Regions from separate parts of the Homo sapiens genome. Here regions 2, 3, 4, 5, 6 and 7 are each linked to region 1. The links come from fine-mapping of genetic effects on gene expression. A gene starts in region 1. Each other region holds a variant in brackets. All regions are shown on one strand. Distances are between the middles of the regions.

The links. PIP is the estimated chance that this variant, and not a neighbour inherited with it, causes the effect.
Region 2: its variant is the best candidate, but not a certain one, in a credible set for the expression of CORO2A in pancreatic islets (PISA, PIP 0.67).
Region 3: its variant is the best candidate, but not a certain one, in a credible set for the expression of CORO2A in unexposed skin (GTEx, PIP 0.61).
Region 4: its variant is the best candidate, but not a certain one, in a credible set for the expression of CORO2A in skeletal muscle (GTEx, PIP 0.76).
Region 5: its variant is the best candidate, but not a certain one, in a credible set for the expression of CORO2A in whole blood (INTERVAL, PIP 0.61).
Region 6: its variant is the best candidate, but not a certain one, in a credible set for the expression of CORO2A in monocytes (Kim-Hellmuth 2017, PIP 0.73).
Region 7: its variant is the best candidate, but not a certain one, in a credible set for the expression of CORO2A in visceral fat (GTEx, PIP 0.61).

What each region holds. Positions count from the first base shown.
Region 1 is chr9:98,190,959-98,195,024 of GRCh38, reverse strand. It overlaps CORO2A (coronin 2A), which reads left to right and starts at 2,388. Exons shown (of 12, transcript NM_052820.4): 1 at 2,388-2,466. RefSeq lists silencers at 2,059-2,608, 2,679-2,728 and an enhancer at 2,881-3,535.
Region 2 is chr9:98,160,531-98,164,596 of GRCh38, reverse strand. All of the region lies in intron 1 of CORO2A (coronin 2A), which reads left to right. Among named protein-coding and RNA genes, the nearest start is that of CORO2A, 30 kb to the left of the region's middle. RefSeq lists an enhancer at 1,619-2,119. The variant T/C (reference allele first, on the strand shown) is at 1,600.
Region 3 is chr9:98,167,248-98,171,313 of GRCh38, reverse strand. The region is part of intron 1 of CORO2A (coronin 2A); the gene reads left to right. Among named protein-coding and RNA genes, the nearest start is that of CORO2A, 23 kb to the left of the region's middle. RefSeq lists enhancers at 1-233, 2,182-2,371 and a silencer at 1,752-1,901. The variant G/A (reference allele first, on the strand shown) is at 2,483.
Region 4 is chr9:98,309,894-98,313,959 of GRCh38, reverse strand. It overlaps GABBR2 (gamma-aminobutyric acid type B receptor subunit 2), which reads left to right. Exons shown (of 19, transcript NM_005458.8): 14 at 2,755-2,865. Among named protein-coding and RNA genes, the nearest start is that of TBC1D2, 56 kb to the right of the region's middle. The variant T/G (reference allele first, on the strand shown) is at 2,032.
Region 5 is chr9:98,047,034-98,051,099 of GRCh38, reverse strand. LOC124902227 (a long non-coding RNA gene) reads right to left here. Exons shown (of 2, transcript XR_007061687.1): 2 at 2,897-4,066. It also overlaps a transcript of TRIM14 not described here. Among named protein-coding and RNA genes, the nearest start is that of NANS, 7.7 kb to the left of the region's middle. The variant ATG/G (reference allele first, on the strand shown) is at 1,760.
Region 6 is chr9:98,105,942-98,110,007 of GRCh38, reverse strand. It overlaps TRIM14 (tripartite motif containing 14), which reads left to right. Exons shown (of 6, transcript NM_014788.4): 2 at 24-119. Among named protein-coding and RNA genes, the nearest start is that of TRIM14, 11 kb to the left of the region's middle. The variant G/AG (reference allele first, on the strand shown) is at 1,927.
Region 7 is chr9:98,282,664-98,286,729 of GRCh38, reverse strand. No RefSeq gene overlaps it. Among named protein-coding and RNA genes, the nearest start is that of TBC1D2, 29 kb to the right of the region's middle. The variant C/G (reference allele first, on the strand shown) is at 2,514.

The DNA.
Region 1 (4,066 bases):
GCCCCCAGAGATGTCTCTGTCAAACCAGCTGTTCCCCAAACAGTCCCAGCCACCAACCACCATGGCACAGGGTAGGAAGATGCAGGTGCAAGCCTTGGAGGGCACATCCATAGGACATCTAGGAAGGCTAGGCCTGGAAGGATGAGTGGGTTTAGACAAGGGAGATGATGATTTGGGAAGAGAACTGCAGACAGAGCAAAGGCTCAGAGATGTCAGAGTGCAAGGCGAGTGGCATTGGCAGAGGTAGAAAGCCACACCAGAGATGCTGGCCCAAGCCCTAAGTGAATTAAGACATTCAAGGCCAGGCGTGGTGGCACGCACCTGTAATCCCAGCACTTTGGGAGGCCAAGGCAGGCAGATTGCTTGAGCCCAGGAGTTGGAGACCAGCCTGAGCAACGTGGCGAAACCCTATCTCTACAAAAAATATAAAAATTGGCTGGGCATGGTGGCACGCACCTGTAGTTCTAGCCATTCGGGAGGCTGAGGTGGGAGGATTGCTTGAGCTTGTGTGGTGGAGGCTGCAGCAAGCTAGGATTGTGCCACTGCACTCCAGCCTGGGCGACAGAACAAAACCATGCAAAAACAACAACAACAAAGTTATTCAGATGCCTTAGCCTGGGAAAGATCATGGTGCCCACCGTCCAGCTGTAATTCAAGTAAAAACCAAACCATGATTATAAAGAATTCCCACAATGTTCTGATTTCATCCATATGTTTGTTTGTTTGTTTGTTTGTTTGAGACAGAGTCCCACTCTGTAGCCCAGGCTGGAGTGCAGTGATGTGATCTCGGCTCACTGCCACCTCCACCTCCTAGGTTCAAGTGATTATCCTGCCTCAGCTTCCCAAGTAGCTGGAACTATAGGCACATGCCACCACGCCCGGCTAATTTTTGTATTTTTAGTAGAGACAGGTTTTCACCATGTTGGCCAGGCTGGTCTTGAACTCTTGAGCTCAAGCAATCCACCTGCCTTGGCCTCCCAAAGTGCTGGGATTACAAGCATGAGCCACTGCGCCCAGCCATCCATATGCTTGATACCCAACTCTTGCACGCTAACACCAGAAGCATGCGTTCAGTCTACCTGCTGGGCAATCCAGCTCCAGAAGGTCTGAATCAGAGCTGTAGGATGGGGTTTTCAGGACCATAGTGCACACTGGGCTTTGGGTGGTAGGCAGGGAGCCCGTCCAGCTCTGGGCAGGGGGGTGGTACAGTGGACTATGGAAGCTGAGTCACATTCTAAGGAGAGAATCAAGAGCTCCCTAAGTACCTTGCCACTCCAAGCCTCAGTTTTCTTATCTGTAAAATGGAGGTAATAATAGTGGCTAAATAAAGCCACTATTATTAGAAGCTTAGAAGAAACGATACAGATATGTAAAGTAGTAACAGTGTACTCTGTTATCCACTCCACAACTATATATTGAGTGGTTACTATGTGCCACGGAGCAGTTCAAGGCCCTCAAGATAACCCGTCTCTACTGAACAAAACCAAGAGCTCTTCACAGACGTGGTGTGGAGTGGAGTGGCTGTTAGCTTAGTAGCCGTGGGAGCCATACTGCCTGGGGTTGCATGACTAGCCGGGTGATCTTAACCTAGGTACTTAATATCTCTGTGCCTCAGCTCTTTTGTGTTAAATAGGTGAGTAATGGTATCAACCTCATAGGCCTGTGTGACAGTGAAGCGAGGTAATGCACAGAAGGCGCTTAGAGGAGTGCGTGGCTCAGTAGTGTTAGGTGGGGGTGGTACCCAAAGGTAGGGCCTCCCCATTGTCTAGTGTCCTCAGGGCTCTCCAGCCAGCGAGGCTGGCAGCAGCGCCCCCGGCTGGTCCCGAGAGAAGGAAGGGCGTCCTCCTCGGTTCCCAGCGGCGCTCCCGGCTCCTCTCCTCCCTGCGGACGGGGAAGCCTCGGTAACCGCTGTAACTGCTCGGGGAAAGGAGCGCTTCCCTGGCCGGGCTCGGCGCGCGCACTGTACCCGGCCGGGATCGTCACATCCAGGGCTCAAACAGCCTTAAGAGGCCGACGCGGTTACTGTCTCCATTTCACAACGGGGGAAACTGAGGCTCCGGGAGGTCAGGTTCCTCATCCCACACCACGCAGCGAGGGCACGGCGCGACGTGGGGCCCGCGGCTCTGCCTGTCCCCAGCCTCCGCCTGGTGGCCGGCAGCCCGCCCCAATCACTGCGGCGTGTGCGCGCCTGTTCCCAGCACGTGTGCGCGCCCCGAGACCCGCCCCGGGGAGCCAGGAGCGCGGTCGGGGTCGTGGGGGCGGAAAAGGGTGGCCAGGGCGGACCCGCGGGGCGGGCAAAAGGGCGGACCTTGGGCCAGGCCCCCGCCCCGCCCTCCGGCCCCGCCCGCCGGGCTGCAGGGGGAGGCGGCGGCGGCTCTGGGCGCCGGGAGTCGGCGGGCGGCGAGGAGCGCGGAGCCGGAGCTGGACGCCGCCGCCGCCACCGCCACCTGCGCGGCAGTCATCAAGGTAGGGCGGCCCTGCGCCGCCGGCCGTGCCTTCCCGGTCTGCGCGATGGGGGCGTCGGGCGGGACGTGCGCGCTGCGGCTGCAGCTCCCGGAGAGGGAGGGATGCGGGGCTCGGAGCGCGGGGGACCTGGCTTTCAGCCCCTTTGCGTGACCTTGCACAAAGCACTGCTCCTCTCCAGGCCTCAGTTTCCCCGTCAGGATAGCTTGCTCATTGGTGGCCCCCTTCTCGCGGGGTTGTTGGGAGGGGCCGCCTCGAGGTCCGGGCTCCCGACGGCTCGCTGCCCTCATGAGCACTGTCTGCACCGCCCACCCCTCCTGCCCGCGGTGAGGGAAGCTCACTCTGGGCGCGGCCAGCCGGTCCCGACAGGCCCCTGCTGTGGCCCGGGTGCTCCATGGGACTCTTGTCGGGACCCTCCCCCTCTTGGCTGCGTTACCTGCTGGGCCTCAGCTTCCTGGTACAGGAAACGGTGGGGTGGGGGGCATCCCCGGGTCCCCGCCAAGCCGGCCTGGGCGTGCATGTGGGGCATCAGCCGGCCCGCCAAGAGGGTTTACTCGTCTGGGGCTGGAGGAGCCCTAGGTTGGAGGTGGCTGGACTCCTGGCGGCACGACTGCCTGGACCAGCCCCACGTAGGCACCTCGATTTAGAGAGTGGTATAGGATAGCTCCTTCCCCTTCCCCACCCGGGCCAGGTGCTGGTGCCTAGCTCTGTGTCCCAGAGCTAGTGTGTGATAAGGTGTGACACACACTAGCTGGTGTGACAAGGGGTGACTGGCGGCCACGCCTGGACCTCAGAGGGGTGACAGTGCCAAGGTGCTGTGTCCGCGTGGCATTAAGGGATGGGGCAGAGCACAGGTCTGAGGGACTGTGGTCCCAGGCTCCCTAGGTAAAGAAGACCTATGGCATCTGGCCCAGCCCCTCTGTAAGATCCCCTCTGGAAGGTCTTGCTGCCCCCTTGCACACTCCTTGTGATAGGAATCTCACTAGTTGTAAACCAAGCTGGAATCTGCTACCCAGTCACTGCCTCTCCTGCTGGTCCTGCTCTGGACACACAAACAACCTCTGACCCTTCCTCCCTCACCCTGGGGCAGTGGTCAGGTCCCTTAAATATGCTCATCTCCAGACCCAGCAGCCCCAGGCCCAGCAGTTTCTCCCATCAGATCCCAGGGAGCCAAGGCAAGAAGAGGGAGCCGAGGTGTCTGCCCTGGAGCAGGCTGTGGGGCCTCCGCTTTCCTGGGGCTTGTTCAGAACCCACCTGTGCATCAGGACTGGAATGTGTCTCCCCAGCTTCCTGCCCCTCCTGGGGACCGTCTGAGAGGTCCGGAGTGAGGAGAGCCGGAGCCCCTCTGCAGGCCTTTCCTGCCCCATGGGGCCTCTTCTCCACCTCCCTGATGCCTGCCCTGTTTGAGGGAGCAGTTTCTAGGAATCACTTCTCAGCCTCCTGGTCTTTCTTGTCCCCTTCATGACCTGCCCTGCACCCAGGGATTTTCTTAACAGCCAAAAGAGGGCAGGAGGCCCCTGGACAGGTAGTGAGCTCTTTGTCATCACAGGTATTCAAGCAGAACCTGGGGGTGAGCTACCTTGGACTGAAAGTCTATGGAATT
Region 2 (4,066 bases), 30 kb after region 1:
ACCCTTACAGAGGAGAAGTAGCTGAGCCTTGTATTTTTTTCTTCCTGCCTGGTGAGAAAGGAAGATGCTGTGGGAAATGGTTACCCAGAGGCCTAGGTTGGCAGCAGGGTGGCCTTATCCTCCATGGGCTTTGATTTCAGAGCCAGATATCCCACTCGCAATGGGTGGATCAGAGACCCCATAAGGATTCTGGATGACTGAAAAGAGCTTTCCCAGCAAGTTTAGGGCCAAGGCCAGGATCAAGATAAACTGTGATGGATAATAGTGGGTCAGGGATTGGAGTCCAGGTGAGGGACCCACCCATGATGAGACGTGTATTGTGTGAATTCTCAGCCTTTGTAGAGCACCTTCACATAGAGCGTTCTTTATCCTGATTAACAGTAACCTCTTTTCGGTTTTTGAAATAACTGGGTAACTTGTGGTTCTAATCTTCCCTAACTGTGGCTGTGACATAAGTGTGGTGGTTCAGACCCTCTCACCAGGCACTTACAGGTGGCAGCTCACTGTGCCCACAAGTCAAATTTTAAGAGAGAGAACAGATAAAACTTCAAATATTATATGTGAAACCACAAATTTACGAAGGGGCACTGGTAGCCAGCAATGCCTACCCATCCTGTTCAAAGACCAAATCAGGTCATTTCATTCTTTCCTTAAAGCCACAAACAGTACAATTAATGAATAATCTATTATAATGGTTTGCACCACGCCCAGTTTGGGTTCAGTTTCAGCCACCCTGCAGCTAACCCTTGTCCTGCAATGAGTTTAGGGCTGGGTAAAGAAGAGGGGCCTTTGGAACAGGCAGGAAACTCTCTCTGTCTCTTTCTCTCTCTCTCTCTCTCTCTCTCTCTCTCTCTCACACACACACATACACACACACACACACACCCCGCATGTATGTCAAGAAAGGAGCATATTGCATAGCAGGAAGAGGGGTCTCTCAACTAGTCCTCAGACTACTTCCCACCTGCACTGCTCATCATAACATGACTTCAGTCTAGTCACTTCCCTTGCACCCCAGTTTTCCCATCATCAAATGGGGGAAAATAATCCCCACCTACCTTGCAGGAGAGTTGTGAGCCACTGTCAGGTGTTAAGAAATAAACTCAAGGCCGGGCACAATGGCTTACGCCTGTAATCTCAGCACTTAGGGAGGCCAAGGTAGGCGGATCACCTGAGGTCAGGAGTTTGTGACCAGCCTGGGCAACTTGGCAAAACCCTGTCTCTACTAAAAATACAAAAATTAGTGGGGCACAGTGGCATGCGCCTGTTATCCCAGCTACTCTGGAGGCTGAGGCAGGAGAATCGCTTGAACCCAGGAGGCAGAGGTTGCAGTGAGCTGAGATAGCACCACTGCACACTCCAGCCTGGGCAACAGAGCGAGACTCCGTCTCAAAGAAAAAAAAAGAAATAAACTCAGTGCGATGCAAAACCCAGAGATGACTACATCCTTTCTGGGAGTTGGGAATTCACAGGCCCCGGAGCCTAATCCCATGGCATCAGGCCCACCAAGCCTGCATGGGATCACAGCAGCAGAATGGATGCCACCTCCCGCCTTGTGCCCAGCAGGCTGTCCCAGAGTGCCACACCTGAGAATGCCTG[T/C]TGTGGCTTTGATGTGGGCCCAGCCAGATGGAATGGGGCAGGATAAGATGAGTGGCCTGGGATAGACCTGGCTCGAATCGGCTGTTCTGGCCCAGCCTGTAGGCGAAGGGCCCGCTACAGTACTCACTTGTGGGCAAGTGCCTGCTTGTAGGGAAAATGAACTCCTGTTCTCTGAATTACTGAGTCATTAAAGTCATGCATGCACGGATACACGCATGCGCTCATGCATGTGTATATACACAGCCTCAGTTAAACATCCAAAGGGATGCACACGTGCATGCACACCCACAAAACGACACAGGCGCTCATGAACTTCCTGATGAATGCAGTTCTTGTGCACACACAGTACGCACACAGGCCAGCACGCATGCACAAGCTTCACCCATGCATATACACATACACTTCCATGCCACATACAAAGGGAGAGGTAGCTGGCCTTGCTAGCGGCTGCCCCACCCCCTACTTGTGAAGTTTCCCTTCATGACAGCAGGTCTGGAAGAATCTTAGCAGTGCAAATAAGAGTTAGGGTGGGGAGAGGATTGGGGGACGGACAGAAGGGCACTGATGTTCACGCTCTTTTGCTGTCAGCTGGCTTCATCCGTGGGGAAGTGGGGAGCCTTTCCAGAGGGTTCTAGCTAGCTTCCTGGGCCTCATTTTCCTTCTCTGTAGAGTGGAAGTGATCATGATCATGACAGTTCCTCTTAGGGACAGAGGTGAGATCCAGGGCTGTGATGGGTCTGAAAGAGCTATTGTCATCATGGGTATTGTCTGTGAGGACCTGGAGCTGCAGGCTCAAAAGCTGCAGGCTTGAGACAGCTGAGTGCAGCCCCCAGGCCTGCTGTTCACTAGCTGTGTGACCCGGTTACTGGCCTGAACACCTACATCTGAACGGGGGAGCAAGGTAGCACCCACTTGCTCTATTCATGCATGGAAAGCATTTGGAATGGCGCCTGGCAGCTTGTAAGCACTCAAAAACCATGACTTCTTATTGCCACAGAGGTGACTGTGAGCTCCAGGGGAGGTGTTGCCCAGGCCTCTCACGGCCTCCTCACTCCTCCTGGATGGAGAGTGGCTCTCAGGAGTTGGGCCAGACCCCAGGTACCCCCTACAGGTGCACAGACAGGCTGTGGAGGGAGACAGCTCAGAGGGTCCGGAAGGGGCCAGGGCTGTTGTTAATGTAAGCTCATGTCGATTTCAGCGACTACCCCAGGCCCGCCACATGCACTCAGGCACCACATTTGGTTGATCCCACCTCCTTGGTATTTCAGTAACATCCTCTCCCCACCATCCCGTCCACTTCACTGCCCTACTCCAGCCCGGGTGACCATTGCCTCTTACCTGCTCTATCCTTTCCTCTGCTCAGGAATCAGAGGAAAACCTGAAAATTAAATCTGGTCCTCTATCTCCCCTGCTTTATTTATTAGAATTATTATTAATTATTTTTGAGACAGATTATCACTCTGTTCCCTAGGATGGAGTGCAGTGGTGCGATCTTGGCTCGCTGCAACCTCCGCATTCCCGGTTCAAGTGATTCTCCTGCCTCAGCCTCCAGAGTGGCTGGGACTACAGGCGCGCGCCACCACACCCGGCTAATTTTTGTATTTTCAGTAGAGACGGGGTTTCACCATGTTGGCCAGGCTGGTCTCGAACTCCTGACCTCAAGTGATCCCCCCACCTCAGCCTCCCAAAGTGCTGGGATTACAGGTGTGAGCCACCGTGCCCAGCTTCTCCCCTCCTTTAATTTCTCCAGTAGCTCCCCACTGCCCTCAGAGTCCGGGTATCTGAGATGATCTGGGTCCTGCCTCCTCCTCTGTGGCCACACCAAGCACAGGCAGCCACTTGCCATCTCCATGGGCCGGACTTGCATAGGCTGTATGAATCAGGATGGGTCGCTGTCCTCCATGACAAATAACCCCTTATCTCATGGTTCACTCTACAAGTGTATTTCTCTGTTGCACTGTATGTCAGTAGAAGAAAGTGCTCTGCTACACATGGTTCCTGAGGGACCAACTACCTTATAGATGCACCATCTGAAACATGCACCCTTCTCATCCCTTTGGCCAAGGACGAGAGTCCTAGAGGGTCACAGGCAGGTCTCATGTGCTTTGGCCTGGAAGTGACACACATCACTGCCTCCCATGATCCACTGGCTAACGGGTCATAGGAGGCAGTGATGTGTGCTATGGCTGCCTGACTGGAAGGGGCCTGGACATGAGGGGAGCAATGGGACGTCTGGTGAGCATCACCAGCTGCCACAGACAGGTGCACTCCCGCCACCCCCAGCAGTTGCTCAAGGTGAGGGAGGAGTGGGGGGGCCTGGAGCGGAGCCTGCTGATTTGCTCCTTGCTTTCCCACCCGAGCCCAGGCCCAAGGTGGCTCCTCCACTGCCACCAAGTTGCCAAGACCCTAGGGAGGTCATTTGTCCTTGTTGTTTCTTTCCAAGGGGACCCCCAGTACCCATTTCTCT
Region 3 (4,066 bases), 24 kb after region 1:
CCTGGTTGGATGCCCACCCCAGGACCAGAGTTACAGAGCTTCAGCCCTGCCTCGGGCTGACTGTGGGACGCTAAGCAAGGCGCGCTTCCTCTCTGAGCCTCAGTGTCCCTCTCTGTCCAAAGACAGGTCTGAAAGCTCTGTGCCAGAAAGCGGACAGTGAGCAGGGAGTGGAGCTGCCAGATTTTCAGCCTCCTGGAGGTGTCTTGGAAAATCCCCAGTGATCCTTGTCGCTCGAAACTCCCAGATAAGGAGATTGTGGGGCAATAAACCTGTGTGGAGTTTTGGTCAGGGCTTGATTTGGGGGATTAAACAGAAAGAAGCTCTGCTCTGTCTCCAGAAGGTCCAGGCAGGACAAGACCTTCTCAGGACAGCTGATGGCTGGACAGCTCTGTCGCCCTTGTGGTCCTGTGTGTGTCTGGTGTGTGCAAGCTGCAGCACCCTCCACAGACCGTCCTAACAGGTGGGCAGGGCAGGGCTGTTACTATTATATGGATAGAAACTCAGAAAGCGGGAGAGGGGACGAGATTTGCCCAAGGTGACGGAGCGAATTGGTGTCAGAATTAGGATTCTCGGCCAGGCTCAGTGGCTCACACCTGTAATCTCAGCACTTTGGGAGGCCAAGGTGGGCAGATACCTGAGGTCAGGAGTTCAAGATCAGCTTGGCTAACATGGTGAAGCCCCTTTGCTCTACTAAAAATACAAAAATTAGCCAGGCGTGGTGGTGCACACCTGTAATCCCAGCTACTTGGGAGGCTGAGGCAGGAGAATCACTTGAACCCCAGAGGCAGAGGTTGCAGTGAGCCAAGATCACGCCATTGCACTCCAGCCTGGGTGACAGAGCGAGACTCTGTTTCAAAAAAACAACAACAATAAAAGAATTAGGATTCTCCAGCCTGACCAGCACAACTGCTATGACAGTGATGGGCCCAGCCCCTTGGCTCCTACCACCTCAAGGAGGGGTTCAGAAGAAGCTGCTGGTGTGAGTGAAAGCTCAAGCTGGGAGTCAGGTTGGCCTCCCCCTGGGTACCCACAGGGCTGTAGGTGGGCACAGCAGAAGGGGAGAACCATCTAAGGTTGACAGTCCTATGGGTGTGTTGGTGGGGGAGGAAGGAAGAGAAGGAAAAAACACAGTGGGCAGGAAAGGAGACGAGGGGCGCTTCCATGGGCTGAGCTCCTACTTTGTGCCAGACACATGCAAGGTCTTTTACATACATTATTTCATTTAATCTTCTAGATTCTATGAGAAAAATATGAGGATACTCTAATGCTACGGCACAGAGACAAATAGGGGTCCAGGGCTTGAACTTGGTGCCTTCTTTTTCCCTGCCTTTGGCTACCTCCCCAAATGTCAGGATGGGACCTCATGGGATGGAGAGACTGCTCAGTCTGAGAGCTGGGGAGGCTCCTTGGAGGTGGTTCTGTTGGAGCTGGGCCAGGAAGGTGGGGTGACAGGAAGGGGCATTCTAAGAGCCCTGCTAAGAGCCACCCAGCGACTTACCTGAGCTGGCTTAGTTCTAGGCAGAGGGAAGGGGCATGAGCAAAGACAGATTATCTGGGAAAATGATGCTTTTTTATTTTCTTTTTGCTTCTCCCCTTCTCTTTTGAAAAGCACGATGCTTTGAGGGGAGAGCAGACAGACCAGTTTGTCTCAGAGAACAGGTCTGTGGAGATGAGAAGGAGGTCAAAGACTCAGGGGGAACGTAGGGACCTCAAAACCCAAGTCCAGCAGAGGACTTTATCCTGAGGACAGAGGGGACCCGGGGTGCATTTTAAGGGAAAGTGCAGGGCCAGAGTTGGGGGTGGAATATGCGAGGCCTGAGTCCCCAAGAGAGAAGGCTGCTGAGGCCTTGGCATGGCCTGGGAGAGGGGTAGAGAGCAGGTGGGGGCCGTGGGGGCAGGGCTGGGGAGGAGGCAGGGCAGGAGGAGGTGGCCCGCCCAGGGACGGTGGCTCTGGGCAGTGTCAGATGTGGGGAGGAGGCACTCCCTCAGGCCTAATCTCATCAGGAAGAAAGAGGCCTTGTCTTGGTTTGCTCTCTGACTCAATCTGTACTTCCTGTGGGCCTGCAGAGATGCATCTGTGCTGGACCAGAAGGATGGGCGGCGCGGGGGCGGGGAAGGCGGAAACCTGAGGACGGGACTCTTTGCATTTGCTGTTTGCATTTGCCGGCTGCAGACGGCTTCTGCCTCGCTGGTGATGGTCAAGCCCCAAAGGAGGGTCCCTGGATGGCTGCGCTCTGCTTCCCTGCCTGGGCTGTGCTGATGGAGAAAAAGCAAAGGGCTTCTTCCCCCACCCCTCCACCCCGTCCCAGGTCCCTCAGCACTAGGGCAGGGTGGGGCCTTCTGGCCTCCACCTAGGAGAACCCAGCCCGGAGAGATGCACAAATGCACTCTCTTGGATTCTTTTTGATCAGTAGGAATTGTCAGCTAGCCTTCTGCATGTGTGTGTCTGTTTCCCCATCATCATGGTTTGCACCAGGGGTTG[G/A]AACTCTCACGAGCCACTTGGCCCCTGGGAGGCTGCTTCATGCTTTCTGGTTTGGGATTTTTACTTAGATACCCAAAATGCTGGCCTCCCAGCATATACCTGTTGTGTGTTAAATCACATCTCAGTGTCTTGTACACATTGGGACCACAACAATCTTACTAGCCAACGTCTTTTGAACACTAAGTATGCACCAAGCATCACTCTGCATGCTGTGTGTATCACCTTATGTAAGTGTCCAGGAACCCCTGCGAGAGAGTGTGGACCTGTGACTGAACAGCCTGGCTTCAGATTCCAGCCCAGCCACTAACTAGCTATGTGATCTTAGGCAAGTTATATAACCTCTCTGTGCCCTGTTTCCTTATCTTAAAAATGGGGCTATGACAGTACTTGCATGAGGGTTGAGTTGGTATGTGGAACATACTTAACACCTAGTCAGTAATATAGGCGTTAGCTAGTATGTGTATTTGTAGTGCCTGATTTTCCTGGTGAGGAAATAGACACATTAAGTAACTTGCCCAGAGTGGCAGATAGGAAATGATAGGGTGGTGCTGTCCATCAGAACTTTGTTCAGAGATGGGCATGTTGTTTAATTACACTGTTCATTGGGTGTTGCTTGTATGGTTTCATCTGTGATTATGAAGCACATGTGGCTTTTGAGCTCTTGAAATGTTGCTAGTGTGACTAAGGAGCTGGATTTTACACTTTATTTAATTTTAACTTTAATTTAGAAGCCTTGTGGGACTAGAGGTTCTGTGTTGGACAGGGCCGTTTAGAGCCAAGATTAGACCCCTGACAGTCAAGCTCCGGGGCCTGGGCCACCTCTGTGCTCTCCTGCTTCTTTCTTGCTTAAATCTTTTACAATGGAAATTTAAAGACACATACAAAATTAAAGGAAAGATTCAAATGAATCCTCTTGTACCCTCACCCACTTTCAGTAGCCATCAGCAGCCTGTTTCATCTCTACGCACTCATTCCCTCCTCCTCTGTCCAACAACCGCAAGTTATTTTAAGATAAATCCCAGATGTTATATCATTTCATCTGTGAATATTAGGCATCCGTCTCTAAAAGATAAAGACTCTTGTCTAATATAAGCACAGTATTATTACCACACCTAATGACAACAATTCTTTAATACTGTCAGGTGCCCACTCAGCTTTCCCTGATTGCTTCCTGATGCCTTTTTGCAATTGGTTTGTGTGAATCCGGATCCACACAGGATCCACACATTGCACTTCTTGCTGTGCCTCTGATCTCTTAAGTCTCTTCTGAACTGTAATGACCCTTGTCCCTTTTTCCTTGTCATCTTAAAGAAACCGGATCTTTTAAAAAATATATGTATATTTCATTGTACTAAAATACACATAACATAGTATTTGCCATCTAAATCATTCTTAAGTGTACAGTTCAGTGGTATTAAGTACGCTCATACTGCCGTGCAGCCATCACCACCATCCATCTCTAGAACTCTTTATCTTGCAAAACTGAAACTCTATATCCATTAAACAATAACTTTTCATTCCTCCCTACCCTCAGCCCCTGGCAGCCACCATTCTACTTTCTGTCCCTGTGATTTTGCCTACTCA
Region 4 (4,066 bases), 120 kb before region 1:
CCTGAACCCCCAGGTCCCACCCCTCCTAGCTCCTCCTGCTTTCACGTGGGAGCACCATCTTTCCCCCACCTCACAGAAGCCCAGGTCCATTGCCTGCTTCAAAGGTCACACCTGGAGAGCAAGACCAAAAAACTAGTTTCTAAACGCTACCCGTCTAAGACCTGCCTTCTACCCCTGGGTCCCATCAAAGTACCTTCTTCCTAGTGATTGACCCTGGGGATGCCCATGCCTTACCCTCAGGAGTGTGGCTTTACCCTGGGCCTCAACAGCACAACTCCATCAGAATATAACATCCTGAACACAGTTATTTGGTGATATACTCCCAGTGGCAAACAGATTGCAAAGGAATCTTCAACTTTACTTAGTAAGTTTGTGCTTGACAGTTGTATGGATGTATCAATTTTGCAACTATTTAGTGTCTAATGTAGGACTGAACAAATCAGTAAATATTTTGATGTTGTTCGAAGGCAGGGATTCCACTGTTGGAGAAGAGTGATGAAAATATGGAATGGGGAAGGCAAGCAAGAACTCGGCAGTGTTGGATCTTATCTAGACAGACAGACAGACAGATTTATTTTTAAAAGAGCTTAGAAGTAGTGACAACTTAGGAACAGTGAGACCATCAAGTGCCTACATCTTGGTTTCTAAACACCATTCTCCACTAAAAAGAACAAGGACTCCTTGGAGAAATGGTTGATTGCAAGGCTGGGAGCAAGAAGAGTTCAAGGAGTGCTGGAATCGTTGTGCCAAGAAGTAAGAAAGTGCTCAAAAAAATTATGGTGATGTGTGGAAAAAACATAGAAGGCAGCATGAAGTTGTTTTCCACTGGCCCAATCTGGAAAAATTTAAGCATCAACATGAATAAGATAGCAAAGGATTATAAGACATTGAATTAAAAAGGAACATACTAGGCCAGACATGGTGGCCCATGCCTGTAATCCCAGCCCTTTGGGAGGCGGAGACGGGCAGATCACCTAAGGTCGGCAGCTCAAGACCGGCCTGGCCAGCATGGTGAAACCCCATCTCTAATAAAAATACAAAAATTAGCCAGGCATGGTGGCGGCCGCCTATAATCCCAGCTACTCAAGAGGCTGAGACATGAGAATTGCTTGAACTCAGGAGGCAGAAGTTGCAGTGAGCGGAGATCACGACATTGCACTCCAGCCTGGGTGACAGAGACTCTATCTCAAAAAAAAGGAACATACTGATATACATAAATAAATGGGAGGAAAGGAAAGCTCTTCTTTGCAGTAGAATGCCAAGTGTTTAAATAGAATGGTAGAGTTAGAAAATCACCATTTTGCAGCTACCAAAGTAATAAATGACTCAGGTAAGAATTATCAATGGTTGCTGAAACCACTGCGTGAACATTTGTGGGGGAACAGGATACTTACACAGTCTCAAAGTAGCTCCCACAGATTATTTATTAATTACAAATGGGGAAATGATACCTTTGAAATGGATGTCTGACAGAAATCATGTCAACCAAGTGATCACAGAGTGCCAACGCGTCCCCCTGATGTGACTCTTACTTATGTAGGATTCCTGACAAGAATACATAAAATCTGAATATAAAACATTCAGGCTAATCCAAATTGAGGGGCTTCTACAAAATAACTGAACTAGATTTTTCAGAAACAATGACATGAAAGACCAAAGTAGGCTGAAGAATTGTTTGAGATTAAAGGAAACCAAAGACACGTAAGTGCAATAATGATGCTGGATTGGATCCTGCATTGGAAAATCCACAGTTGCTTTAAAGGACGTTATTAAGCCAATTGGCAAAATCTGAAAATGGCTAGTATATTAGATAATACACTGTATCAGTGTTAAATTTTCTGAATTTAGTAAGTGTATGTGATTGTGCAAGGGAATCCCTTGTTCTTAGGAAATATATGCTAGGATATTCAGGGGTGAAGGGTCAGGATATCTGCAATTTACTCTCAAATGGTTCAGAAAAAAATAAATGTACAGTAGATGTTGTTTCATTCCCTGGGTGTCTTTTTGTCTTGTTGCCACCATCTGGCCAAT[T/G]ATCTCCCAGAGTTTCCCAATTCAAGTTCCTGCCAGAGAGAATGTGCTCAGGAGGGATCCTCTCCATCAACCCTCATTAGGCAGAGCACTTTGTAGGAGGAAACCTCATAGGTATCTGACAAGCCTCTGGATTGGCTGCCTGGGGTCAGGTGCCCATTCTTTGTCCAGTCAGCTCTGGCCAAGGATGAGTCATGTGGTACACAACCTGGCTGCCATCACTGCTCCAGCAGTGGGGCTGTGGGCAAGAGGGTCTCCTCAGAAGGGTTTGGCAGGCCCCAGGCTTGGGCAGGCCAGTATATCCTATATCTCCAGTTGCACAGAGGTAACCCCAGAGATACCTGAAGACCTCCTGACCTAACTTTATACCTCATTCTCACAACAAATATTAGCGGTACCTGCATTGGGCCAGGTTTTGTGTTAGATCCTAGGGGCAAAGAAGTGACCCAGTTCCTACCCTCAGGAGCTCTGACTCAAATTGGAGAGGCATGAATTATGCAGAGAACTGGAGTGCAGGGTTGAATTGCTACCAACAAACAGAAGGCAGTCAACGCTAGTTGAGGCCTGGGCTCCACACCTTAGGAACACAGAGATGGGGTCCAAATGGCCTGCTGAACAGTGGCATTGGCTATGGCTCACAGGAGGGAAAAGGGCTCTCAGATAAGGACCCAGTTGCTGGAAGAGTGTCCTGTGCCATCCCTGAGTCTCTGTTTTCTCTTTGCACAGCCGGACCCAGCAGGACGGGATATCTCCATCCGCCCTCTCCTGGAGCACTGTGAGAACACCCATATGACCATCTGGCTTGGCATCGTCTATGCCTACAAGGGACTTCTCATGGTAGGTGCAGAGCAGGAGACAGTGTTGAGGGGGGACACTTCTTTGTTGGGCCTCTGTCTCCCAGGGGCCTCCATCAATGTAAAAATAAACAGAGCCTCCATGACTAAGCAGTTACTCTCTGTGGACTCAGTGCCTGCCACATGCTATCTCAGTTCCTGCAGCAACCCTATGAGATAGGTACAAATAACATCCTCATTTCACTGATGACACTGAGGCTTGGTGTCTTGCCCAAGGTCATCTGGCTAGTAAGTGGCAGAGTCAAGATCTTAACCAGAGAGTAACCCAAAAACTCGTGGCTGTGCCTTACAGCTGTCACTGCACTACTCCCAGGAAGAGCAGTCTGCCGACATCCAGTGCATGTTCATGTCCAGCATTTCAGCGGACCCTCTCTTAAGTCCATGGGAGGTGGGCAGGATCATCCCCATTTAATAGATGAGGAGGGTAAGCCTCAGAGAGGTTAAATGATTTGCCAAAAGCTGCCTAGTAACCTCCAAACTGCAAACCCAGCACTCTTTCCACTTTACTCATCTTTTGAAATCAAAGATCATGCTAGGTGCTGTGGCTCATGCTTGCAATGCCAGCACTTTGAGAGGCCGAGGTGGGTGGGTCACCTGAGGTCAGGAGTTCGAGACCAGCCTGACCAACGTGGCAAAACCCCATCTCTACTAAAAATACAAAATTAGCTGGGTGTGGTTGTGGGCGCCTGTAATCCCAATTACTTTGGAGGCTGAGGCAGGAGAATCGCTTGAACCCGGGAGGCAGAGGTTGCGGTGGGCCGAGATCAGGCCATTGCACTCCAGCCTGGGCAACAAGAGCGAAACTCCGTCTCAAAAAAAAAAATCAAAGATCACATACCAAGCCCACGTTGTGAAATTCCAACATTAGGAAGAACTTGAAAGGTCAGCTCCACCATATTTCAGCCCAGGTTGATCCTTGAATCTTCTCTCCTATATCCTATATAAACCATGCTTCCACTGAAAGCCATCTAGTGACACAAAGCTGGTCACTGCGCCCTCCTCAGATCTTTCCACAGGGAGGTTAAGTCACCATTCACCCCCGTTTGACCCCACTTAGAGGCCAAAAATGAAGCCCTCTCTCCAAAAGTCAAATAAACTGGAATCTCTTGTGCTGCTCAAATGCATTCTTACCTGCTGCTGCATCACTGAAGTGTTAGTGATTGATCCTGTGTCCTTTGAGAGGC
Region 5 (4,066 bases), 140 kb after region 1:
CAAGAGCTGAAAGAAATGTGCAACCATGCCGGGTGTGGTGGTTCACTCCTGTAATCCCAGCACTTTGGGAGGCCAAGGCAGGTGGATCACTTGAGGCCAGGAGTTCGAGATCGTCCTGGCCAACATGGTGAAACCCTGTCTCTACTAAAAATACAAAAATTAGCTGGGTGTGGCGGTGCCTGCCTGTAAACCCAGCTACTCAGGAGGCTGAGGCATGAGAATCGCTTAAACCCAGGAGGTGGAGGTTACAGTGAGCCAAGATCATACCACTGCACTCCAGCCTGGGTGACAGAGTAGACTCTGTTTCAAAAAAAGAAATGTGCAACCATGAGGACACCATAACCTATGAATGACACGCTGAGACCAGAAACCCAAAATGATGGTAACTGAGAGTGGCGTTAAGGCCCTAAGTTTTGGTCACCGTCTCACCTAAGTAAGAACTCTCACCTAAGGGAGAATGTGACCAAAAAGGGGGAATATTTAAAAACAAAATTAGGGGAGGCCATTGTTTTGGAATGAGCACTAGGCCCCAAACCAAACCAAAATGGAGTCACTCGTGCTAAATGTGACATAGCAATACTAAGACTTTAAGGAACACATAGGTCCTAGAACAAACCAGGTTTTGTTTTTCTTCTGTAAACAGGAGGTTCCAGCATAAGGAGGTACCCTCTACTCAGTCCTTGTTCCCACCTTGCAAAACTCACTGTTCTACTGTTTCCCAGTGGGTTTCAAGACCAAATAAGTATATTTATGCTGGGATGGTGACATGAATGACTAAAGTTTTGGTCAATCTCTCAAAATTGAGAAAATGATCAAAAGGGGGGAATTGTTAAATCAAGTTTAGCCTAAAGCTGCCTCCTTATATATTTTAAGTTCAGCCTAAAGATTTTCTGTACATCATGAACTACAACAAGTGGAGATGTAAACAGACTGTAGCCCATATCTGTGCCAATCACTGAGTTTGGGCCAATCAAATGTAGCCAATTGTTCCAACTGTGTTAAAATAAGGCAAACGCTGAAATGTAAGCAATCCAGTTGCTTCTAAACCTCATTTGTGTTTTCTGTACTTCACTTTCCTTTTCCTGTCCATAAATCTTCTTCTACCACAAAGCTGCACTGGAGTCTCTATGCCTACCCTGGCTCAAAAAGCTGCTCAATTCGTGACTTGCTCATTGATCAATCAAACATCTTTAAACTTAATTCAGCTGAAGTTTTTCTTTTATCACTGTGGCAGAGGCATTTGAACTAGAGTGACTCCATCTTGAATGGGGGCTAGATAAAATAAGGCTGAAACCTTCTGAGCTGCATTCCCATGAGGTTAAAGCATTCCTAGTTACAAGAAGAGACAGGAGGTTGACACAGGGTACATGTCACAAAGGCCTTGCTGATAAAAAGTAGTGGTAAAGAAGTCAGCCAAAACCCACCAAAACCAAGATGGCAATGAGAGTGACCTCTGGTTGTCCTCACTGTTCATTATACACTAATTATAATGTATTAGCATGCTAAAAGACACTCCCATCAGTGCCATGACACTTTATAAATGTCATAGCAACATAGAAAGTTACCCCATATGGTCTAAAAGGGGGAAGAACTCTCAGTTCCAGAAAGTGCCCACCCCTTTCCTGGAAAACTCATGAATAACCCACCCCTTCTTTAGCATATAATTAGGAAATGATCATTAAAGTGGACAGCCAGCAGCCCTTGGGGGTGCTCTGCATATGGAATAGTCATTCTTTTTTTTTTTTTTTTTTTTTTTTTT[ATG/G]CAGAGTCTCACTCTGTTGCCCAGGCTGGAGTGTAGTGGTGCAATCTTGGCTCACTGCAACCTCCACTTCCCAGGTTCAAGTGATTCTCCTGCCTCAGCCTCCTGAGTAGCTGGGATTACAGGCATGCGCTACCACGCCTGGCTAATTTTTGTATTTTTATTAGAGATGGAGTTTCTCCATGTTGGTCAGGCTGGTCTCAAACTCCTGACCTCAGGTGACCTGCCCACCTTGGCCTCCCAAAGTGCTAGGATTACAGGCATGAGCCACCGCTCCCGGCCAGAATAGCCACTCTTTATTCCTTACTCTTTTTTTTTTTCTGAGACAGAGTCTTGCTCTGTCACCCAGGCTGGGATGCAGTGGCATGATCTCGGCTCTCTGCAACCTCCGCCTCCCAGGTTCAAGCAATTCTCCTGTCTCGCCTCCCAGGTAGCTGGAATTACAGGTGCCCGCCACCACGCCTGGCTAATTTTTGTATTTTTGGTAGAGACTGGGTTTCACCATGTGGCCAGACTGGTCTCGATCTCCTGACCTTGTGATACACCTGCCTCGGCCTCCCACATTGCTGAGATTATAGGCATGAGCTACCATGCCCAGCCTATTCCTTTACTCAAGTTGAACGATTTTCAAAAGCCAAAGAAGCAGTTTATAACCTTAAAGCATTTAGCAAACCTAATATCTGACCTGCCTAAATTAGACTAAATATCTTTATTTTACCAATAATCTTCAAAATTGTTTTTATTTCCCAAAGGTTACTAAAGTCATGTGAACTAAAAGGCATTACAGTTTTTATTTTTCTTTCAAAATATTTAAGTACTTATTTTTCTTGAAGCCAATTAATCAGAGCTCTTTTATATAAACATCACACGCACAACACATATATAACTACACAGACAGACAGATGGAAGAAGATCCAGTAGCTGTAGGATTTTTCATTTGCCAGTTTTTATATTTCTTAATTGGATTACTGGCTTTAGAGTGGAGCCCTTTGTAGAACAGGGTGAGGAAAGCAGTTTCTAGGACCTAATAAGCAGGCACACCTGGAAGGTAAAATGGATTCCCCCAATATTAAGGGTTTCATTTTTAGACCAGATCTCAGATCCCAAAAGGAGAAATGCTATGAACAAGACAGTGCAATGATTTTACCATGCATTTAATTGCAAAGCAATCCAAAGCTAACCAGCCCATTCTGTGACTAGCCCATCATCCATGGGAGTCTTGTCTCTCAGTCAGGGGGTGTGGGTGACATTTCCATACTTTTTTTTTTTTTTTTTTTGAGAAGGAGTCTCACACCATCACCCAGGCTGGAGTGCAGTGGCATGATCTCAGCTCACTGCAACCTCCACCTTCTGGGTTCAAGCGATTCTTCTGCCTCAGCCTCCTGAGTAGCTGGCACTACAGGCATGTGCCACCACGCCCAGCTAATTTTTGTATTTCTAGTAGAGATGAAGTTTCACCACATTGGCCAGGCTGGTCTCAAACTCCTGACCTTGTGATCCACCTGCCTTGACCCCCTCAAAGTGCTGGGATTACAGGTATGAGGAACCACGCCCGGCTCATTTCCATGCTTTCTAGGTGGCCAAGAGCATGCTTCTCTGATCCGAACATGCAAAGAGCTGAGAATTCCCCCATAATTGCCATTAGCTATCCCCAAAACTGTATTTCCTACCTAGCTATTACACACTAAATTTCTCTCATAATGTGAAGTAACTTCTGGTACCCCCAAAACTCAAAAATATCAGATAATGCAATGCAGAAAAGAACAGAGCCTTAGATTTTGAGAGGGCTCTAACTGCTTCCAATTCCTGGGGTTTCATGAGAAAAACAGAGGTTTTTCCCAAAACAGGCTCTGTGGTGCCTCCTGTTTTACCCAAGGAGTCCCAGGCTGTTAGAGCTTGAATATCTTTTTGGGTATCTTTACAGCAGTGGTCCACTCTACTGGTACTAATTTACTGTATTTGTCCATTTTCACACTGCTGATAAAGACACACCCAGGACTGGGTAATTTATAAAGAAAAAGAGGTTTGATGGTCTCACAGTTCCACGTGGTGGGGGAGGCCTCACAGTTATGGTGAAAGGCAAAAGGCACGTCTTACATGGCAGCAGACGAGAGAATGAAAACCAAGCAAAAGGGATTTCCCCTTATAAAAACCATCAAATCTCGTGAGACTTACTCACTACCATGAGAACAGTATGGGGGAAACCGCCACCATGATTTAATTCTCTCCCACTAGGTCCCTCCCACAACACATGGGAATTATGGGAGCTACAATTCAAGATGAGATTTAGTTGGGGACACAACAAAGC
Region 6 (4,066 bases), 85 kb after region 1:
TTTCCTAACTCCCTCCTGTACAGAAACTCAGCCAAGAATGTTTAAAGCAGCTGGCAATCAAGAAGCAGCAGCACATTGACAACATAACCCAGATAGAAGATGCCACCGAGAAGCTCAAGGCAAGTGGACATTTCTTCCTCATACCCATGGAAAGACCCACATTTCCCCCCAGACAAAAGGGACCCCCAATATGGAGCCAATGAAAATAAAAACCAACTGCGAAGGGGCAGATGGTGGGGCCTGGAGCTTCTATAATTCAGGGTTCTTTAGAAAAAGAACACAAAATTACAGACAAAATTAGGTGCAAGACCATGAAGGGGCTCTGCAAGTGAGGGGCCCTGAGCTCCGGTTTCCTTTGCTTTGTGGCAAATCTCTGGTTCCTTAGTGTCATCTGCCAGTCTCTTGGAGGAATTAGCCCATTATCCCAAATTGCCTTAAACAAAGCAAAACACAGCTTAAGGAATATGCAGATATCTCTTTAATTCCACTGCCATGCTGAAAGAAAGCAAGTAGGGTAAGATCTGTTCCACAAATAGGTACTTTCTTCACTCTCCTTTCATAATGATGTTTGAGTGGATTCTCTGTGGATTTTGAATGGGAACTTGAGGCTGATGTTATTCTAAGTAACCATTTTGACATGACAAAGTTGTTGTGTTTTTAGGGCCTCAGGGGCTGGTCATTTCCCCTTGCATCCTCCGTTGCTCCCTCCCCCTTTCATCCTGTTGCTCCCTCCCCCTTTCATCCTCTGTTGCTCCCTCCTCCCCTTCATCCTCTGTTGCTCCCTCCTCGCAGTGAGGGCTGGGGTGGGAGGCCCTCCTGGGGCCTGCCCCACTGAGAGCTGGAAGAACCCCTGCTCTGCACTTTGGGAGGCCAAGGCTGGAGGATCACTTGAGCCCAGGAGTTCGAGACCAGCCTAGGCAAGATAGTGAGACTCCCATCTCTACTAAAAATAAATAAAATAAAATAGCCAGGTATGGTGGTGCACGCCTGCAGTCCCAGCTGTTTCAGAGGCTGGGGTGGGAAGATCGCTTGAGCCCTGAAGCTTGAGACTGCAGTGACCTAGGATCACGTCACTGTGCTCCAGCCTGGGCAACAGAGCAAAACCCTATCAAAAAAAAAAAAAAAAAAGGAACCCCTGACTGATTCACACAAGAGGAGGAGTGGCTGTGACCATGGGAGAAGCTGGCACCCAGTTTCTCCTGTGACCAGGCCAGGCCACAGAATTGGCTCCCACATTTGCCTAAAGTCCATTCTCTGTCAGTTGTCTTCATGACAGTTTGCCAGTACCCTGAAGACGTTTGTAGTTCACACCTGTGGTCCCAGCTTAATAGTGTCTCTCATGTCTTCACAAGCAGAACTCTGGGCTAGGAGATAGACAGTACCAAAGGATTTAGAAAGTGAAAGCTGTCACGTTGGAAGGGTTGTGGGGAGGCCTGAAGATCAGGCTCCCTGTCTGCAAATGCCTGAGCAGATATGGTTTGAGGGCCCCCAAGAATTAGGACCCATGTGGAGGGTCTAGTCTTCCCCAGGCCACACTGGAAGAATTGTCTTGGGCCACACATAAAATACACTAACACTAACAATAGCTGATGAGCTAAAGAAAAAAAAAATATCCAAAAAACTCATGATGTTTTAAGAAAGTTTACAAATTTGTGTTGTGCCACATTCAAAGCTGTGCTGGGCCACATGCGGCCCACAGGCTGCAGGTTGGATAAGCTTGGCCTGAGGGATGGCCTGGGGTAGGTTTCAGCTTAATCTAAGCCATGGTTCTCTTTCTCTTGACCCTTTCCCCAACTAACTTTTTAACTTTTTATAGATTTAGAGGAAGTTGCAAAAATAGTAGAGTTTTGTGTACCTTGACCTAGTTTGCCCCAAGGGTTACTTGTTACATAACTATAGCACACTATCCAAAAAAAAAAAAAAAAA[G/AG]GATGGTATGTGTGTATAGTTTTATGTCAACTTATCACATGTATAGATTTGCATAACCACCACTGCAATCAAAATGCAGGCTATTCCATCACTGCCAAGTTCTACCTTCTTCTAGGCCAAGCGAGGTGGCTCATGCCTGTAATCCCAGCACTTTGGTAGGCTGAGGCAGGCAGATCATTTGAGGTCAGGAGTTCGAGACCAGCCTGGCCATCATGTTGAAACCCCATCTCTACTAAAAAAAAAATACAAAAAAATGCCGGGAATGGTGGCGCCTATAATCCAAGCTACTCAGAAGGCTGAGGTGGGAGGATCGCTTGAACCCAGGAGGTGGAGGTTGCAGTGAGCCAAGATCATGCCTCTGTACTCCAGCCTGGATGACAGAGCGAGACTCCATCTTAAAAAAAAAAATCTACCTACACCTTTATGGTCACCTCCCTACCCACTGTATCCCCCCGACCAATCCCTAACCCCTGGCAATTATTAATTTGTTTGATAATTGTTGCATTTGAAAATGTCATAAAAATGGAAAATGATCTTTTGAGGTATTTTTCACTCAGCAGAATGCCCTTGGGATCCACCCAAGTTGTTGCAAGAACCACTAGTTCATTCCCATGTATTGCTGAGTAGTAATATTCCACTAATCCGATAGTATGCATGTACCATAGAGGTTTTTTAAACCATTTACCTATTGTAGGCTGTTTGGTACAGTCTAGGGCTATTGCAAATAAGGCTTCTTTGAACAGTTGTGTCCAGGTTTCTGTGCGGACATAAGTTTTCATTTATCTGTGTTAGATGCCCAGGAATGCTATTGCTGGGTCATATGGCACCTGCCTGTTTTGTTTTTTAAGAAACTGCCAAACGCTTTTCCAGAGTGGTTGTGCCATTTTACATTCCCACCAGCAATGCATGAGAGTGTGTTTTTCTGCATCTTTGACAACATTTGGTATTGTCACAAGTTTTTATCTTAACTTGCATAATCTGTGTGTAGTGATACCTTATCATGGTTTTAATTTGCATTCCCCCAGTAGCTAGTGATGTTGAGTATCTATTCATGTGCTTGTTTACCATCTCTACAAAAAACTAAAAAATCATCCAGGTATGGTGGCACATGCCTGTAGTCCCAGCTACTCAGGAGGCTGAGGTGGGAGGATCGCTTGAGCTCAGAAGGTTGAAATTGCAGTGAGCAATGACCATACCCACTACACTCCAGCCTGGGTGACAGAGCGAGACCATGTCTCAAAAAAAAAAAAAAAAAAGAAGAAAGAAAAGAAAAAGAGTTTGTTGGGATTTTGATAGGAATTGTGTTAAACCTGTTTATCAATTTGGGGAGAATTGACATTTTTACTATGTATTCTTCCAATCCATGAATATGGTATATCTTTCCATTTATTTAGATCTCTGTTTTCTTTCATCAGCATTTTGTAATTTTCAGCATACAAATTCTGTATGTTTTGTTAGACTAACACCTAAGTGGCCTTCATAAGGTAATAAGAAAAATGGAATTAATAGTCAGCATTTTAAACCTGAGACATATTTGTATAAAAATTTATAGTTAGGAAATTAGAAAGATATTGCCACCCTATGCCTGCACTCTCATGTGGGGGCAGATGGAGCTGAGCAATGGCTACTCCCATGGCATGGGATCTCCCAGCTCCACCCTGCCCACTTCCTTCAGTGTTAACAACCTGGCTCCTGTGAGCATTTATATTCAATTCCTGATCAAGAAACATATTTTTAAAAATTCATCCATAATCCTGCATCCTGCCACTTCAGGCCAACCATTATTCACATTTTGAGATTTTTTTCCTGTATATGCATATGCTTTTAATGTAGCTTGAGTTATATTGTACATACAATTCTAATATATCCCCAATCTGGAGGTGAGGCATGGTGGTTCATTTTCTTGTGTGGTTTGTCACGTGTATTATCATCTTGTCTCCAGTAGCTATTTACCATAGATGTCCAATACACTGTGGATTGTGAGTGTGCCCCTTCAGAGCACTGTGACATGAGCATCTTCAGGAGATGCTAAGAGTTTCAGTAGCTCCAGACTCATTTTCATATTATTTTTCAGTTTTGAGTTTCCGTGAATTTGGACTCCAACCCTGCTTAATGCAAAACTGTTGTTTTATTTGTTTTG
Region 7 (4,066 bases), 92 kb before region 1:
ACACCACTGCTCATACAGCCATCCTACGGGATGTGGGTTGTTCAAGGATGGGAAACAGGCCCAACATGAAGAATACGTACCCAAGGCCACCTAATAAGGCTGTGGCAAAGGCAGGAACAACCAGAATCTTAGCTGGTCTTCCTTCTCTACCTGACCCTGACTCACAGAAATTAGAGCAGAGAAAGGTGGCAGCGGTCATCTCACCCAGCCCCTCCTAGTACAGTTGGGGAAACGGAGGCCCAGCAACTGGAGCCAAGGTCAACCAGAAGGTCACGAGAGGGCCAGCATGGAACCCAGATGTCCTGGTTTTGAGACTTGGCTCTTCTCAGTCCACTTCCCACACCTGTTCTGCCATAGGTAGTACGACCACAGCGGTGAGACGCTGCCCCATAGAGCAATTTCTCAGCTACCACAGACTGAGAAATCTTTACATAGCCTCACTAAATATGGAGTCAGCCAAGACAACATTTGGTCTTTCCTCTTAGCACGTCTGAAAGAGAGAAATGACCCAAGTGTTGAAGATGCTCCTTGTCACATCACTGAAGTGATGCCTTGCTTGGCCATAAGCAGGAAAAGCCCAGACAGCAATGGTGCACTTCATTCCTCTTCATTCTTCTTCAAAAGCATTCTGTCTTCCTTTTGTTATGACTGGGTCATTTCTGAGTTAAAAATAAAAGAGTGTTTCCCAACCTCAAAGACAGGCTTTCTGGAGTTGAAGCCCTCTTAGAAAGCTCTGCCTGGGGGTCTCCTCACCCTGGGGTGTGGAGACAACACTGGGGTCCACTCTGAGGGAAGAAGGGGAGAGGTTTCTGAAAACATTAAGCCTGGGGCACCAGCCGAGGCCTGCCCTTCCAGGCAGTTTCCTGTGCTCAGCAATTTCTTCTCTACAAGGATCAGGATCCACAGGCCTAGAAGCCAGTGCCAGGGAGAGGAGGTGGTACTGGGTAGATTGCAAAAAGCAGACTGGCGGCCATCAGCACCTCTGCCTGTCCAGCAACCACATCTGCCTTCCTGCAGCTCCTCTGAAAGCACTGCCCTACTTTTGGGGGAAAGCAGAAGAGAGAAAATCTGGAGGGCCGCCCTTGCTTCCACTGCTGGACACAGGATTGGCTCAGGGATATGCTCATTAACCAAGCCCAGCCAGTCAAAGCTTTCCCCTGCCGTTTTTAAGAAGTTTGAAATCTTGCCCTCCACGTGGAGAGCAATGAAAAGAGGGAAACTGAGCTCTCATTGCATCATTTAGGCTCAAGGACCAGTGATACCTAAAAATACATCCATCCTTGAGCTTGTAGGTTTTAAACTAATACATACCCTTTTCTGCTTACATAGAGTTGGGTTTCTGTCACTTAGAACCAAAAGAAATCTGTGGGATGCAGAGGGGCTCCACGAGGGGTTCACTGTTGTCTGAAACCCTCCTGGTATTAAGGAGACATGCAGGAGATATTTCCCTGGCCTCACACACGCTGCTGAACAGGGAGGTGGGTAAGGATACCCAAAGGGAAGATGGGGCTAAGAAGCCTCAGGAGGCTAAAGAAGGGTCAAGGAGCCAGGCTGAGGGCCGGAGGGCTGGCACCAAGCTGCGTGCCCAGCACTTGTCACCTGCCTGTCCCCTACCCCCTTAGCTTGTCACCCCTTACTTAGCCTTGAGGAGCAGGGTTTGTAGGTACTGGACAGTAAATGATTAACACACTCTCTGGAAGAGAAAATTGGTCCCTCCTCTGCCTCCACCCCACATCTGAAACCCCTGGCAAATCCCAGGGGCTAACTCCATCATACTTGGTCTGCCCTGTCCGTGGTCCTGAGTGGGTCCTGCCCAGAGATGACAATTCACTGTCTGGTTCCTCCAGGTCCCACCTTCAGGAGCCCCAGACCCTCAATGGGGCATCCACCGAGCCCCTGATCTTTGCCAAGGCCTGTGCTAGGTGCCAGGTGAACAGTGAGTAGGATATAGGTCTCAAGAAGCTCACACACTAATAGGAAGACAGATGCTTAATGAAGAAATGACAATAGCCTGTGATAAGCACCTGCTCCAGAATGGACATGCCTCCTGGGGGCCATAGCCTCCAAACAGGGCTAGTTTTGGGGGTTTGCAACCTATACAGTTTTTAAAGGGCCTCATGTTCGACTTAATGCTCTGCTGTAACTATTTTGAAATTCTAAATAACTTTTGAAAAGGGGGCTTAGAATTTTATTTTATTTTTATTTTTTATTGACTTGTTTATTTTTGAGACAATGTCTCACTCTGTTGTCCAGGCTGGAGTACAGTGGCATGATCACAGCTCACTGCAGCCTTGACCTCCTGGGCTCGAGCAATCCTCCCCACTCAGCCTACGAGTAGCTGGTACTACAGGCATGCAACACCATGCCTGGCTAATTTTTTATTGTTTAGAGAGATGAGATCTCTCTAAAAAATAAAATATTTAAAAAAATTTATGTTGCCCAGGCTGGTCCCGATCACCTGGGCTCAAGCAGTCCTCCCACCTCAGCATCCCAAAGTGCTGGCATTACAGGCA[C/G]GAACCACTGTACGCGGCCCAGGGCTTAGCACTTTAATTTCATACTGGAGCCCACAAATTATGTAGCCAGTCCTATACCTAGACCTGAAAATGAGTAAAAGCTAGCCAGCAAAAGAGAGAAAGAAGAGGAGGGGAGAGGGAGAGAACTAGCAGCCCAATTCTGTAGAATGCATGCACCTGCAGGGGCTGCTGTGGCTGCACCAAGGACAACTAAGTTGTTGTGTGTTAATCACCTGTCATGGAATCCATGTGACTTCAGACTGCTGCGTGATCAGACAGCACGCATCCTGTCTATGTGTGATGATGTGAGTTACATCTGAAAAATCATCAGGCCTGGGTGCACATTTGTACACCTTCACTTACCTGGCTGCATGGCTTTGAATGATTCCACCTCTCTGAGCTTCTGATCCCTCATCTGTAAAATGGACATGATACCTCGCTCAGAGCTTCTCTGACAGTCAAAGAGGCTCATGTAGGGGAAAGTGCCTTGTGAACACTAAGCTTATATTTGTGCTACTCCCAGACAGGAGGAATGTAAAATGAGCAGCTTTAGTAGGTACAATGGGGCAGCCAACAGCCTAGTCTCCTCACAACAGACTGCATCTAGGAAGAATGTCATTAGGGAAAACATCCTGACATGCTGTGTTAGGGGCAAGGTGAGATTCTAAAGACAAGGCTAAAAGAGAGACAGCAGAACAATTCTGTTAGAAAAAGAACTAGAAGTTTGGGGTTAGAAGGAGAGAAAAATGAAAGGAGTGGGTGATAAATAACAGGACAGTGTGGCTAAAAAGCTTTTAAGAATAGGGATGTCAGCCAGGTGCGGTGGCTCATGCCTGTAACCCCAGCACTTTGGGAGGCTGAGGCGGGTGAATCACCTGAGGTCAGGAGTTCGCAACTAGCCTGGCGAACATGATGAAACCCCGTATCTACTAAAAATACAAAAAATTAGCCAGGCATGGTGGCACACGCCTGTAACCCCAGCTACTCAGGAGGCTGAGGTATGAGAATCACTTGAACCTGGGAGGTGGAGGTTGCAGTGAGTCGAGATTGCACCATTGCACTCCAGCCTGGGCAACAAGAGCAAAATTCCTTTTCAAAAAAAAAAGAATAGGGATGTTGAATATTTGATTTTAAGTCATTTGTGTTGCATGAAGTAAAAGCCTCTGTCTTCCCTTTATTTCACTCCCTCCTGCAAAATGTCCCTAAACCTTTGGTTACATTTACTATACAAGTAAAAGCTTTGTGAGTTTTAGTGGAAATAAAGAAAAACAGCAAATTCTATGTTTAGGTAGAGACCAGAGTAAGGATAAAAGAAGCAGCAGCCACAAGATGCAGAGGGAAAAATATGTTCTCTGGCCAAGCGCGGTGGCTCACACCTGTAATCCCAGCACTTTGGGAGGCCAAGGCGGGTGGATCACTTGAGGTCAGAAGTATGAGACCAGCCTGGCCAACATGGTGAAACCCCATCTCTACAAAAATGCAAAAATTAGCTGGGCATGGTGGCACGCACCTGTAGTCCCAGCAACTCTGGAGGCTGATGCAGGAGGATCACT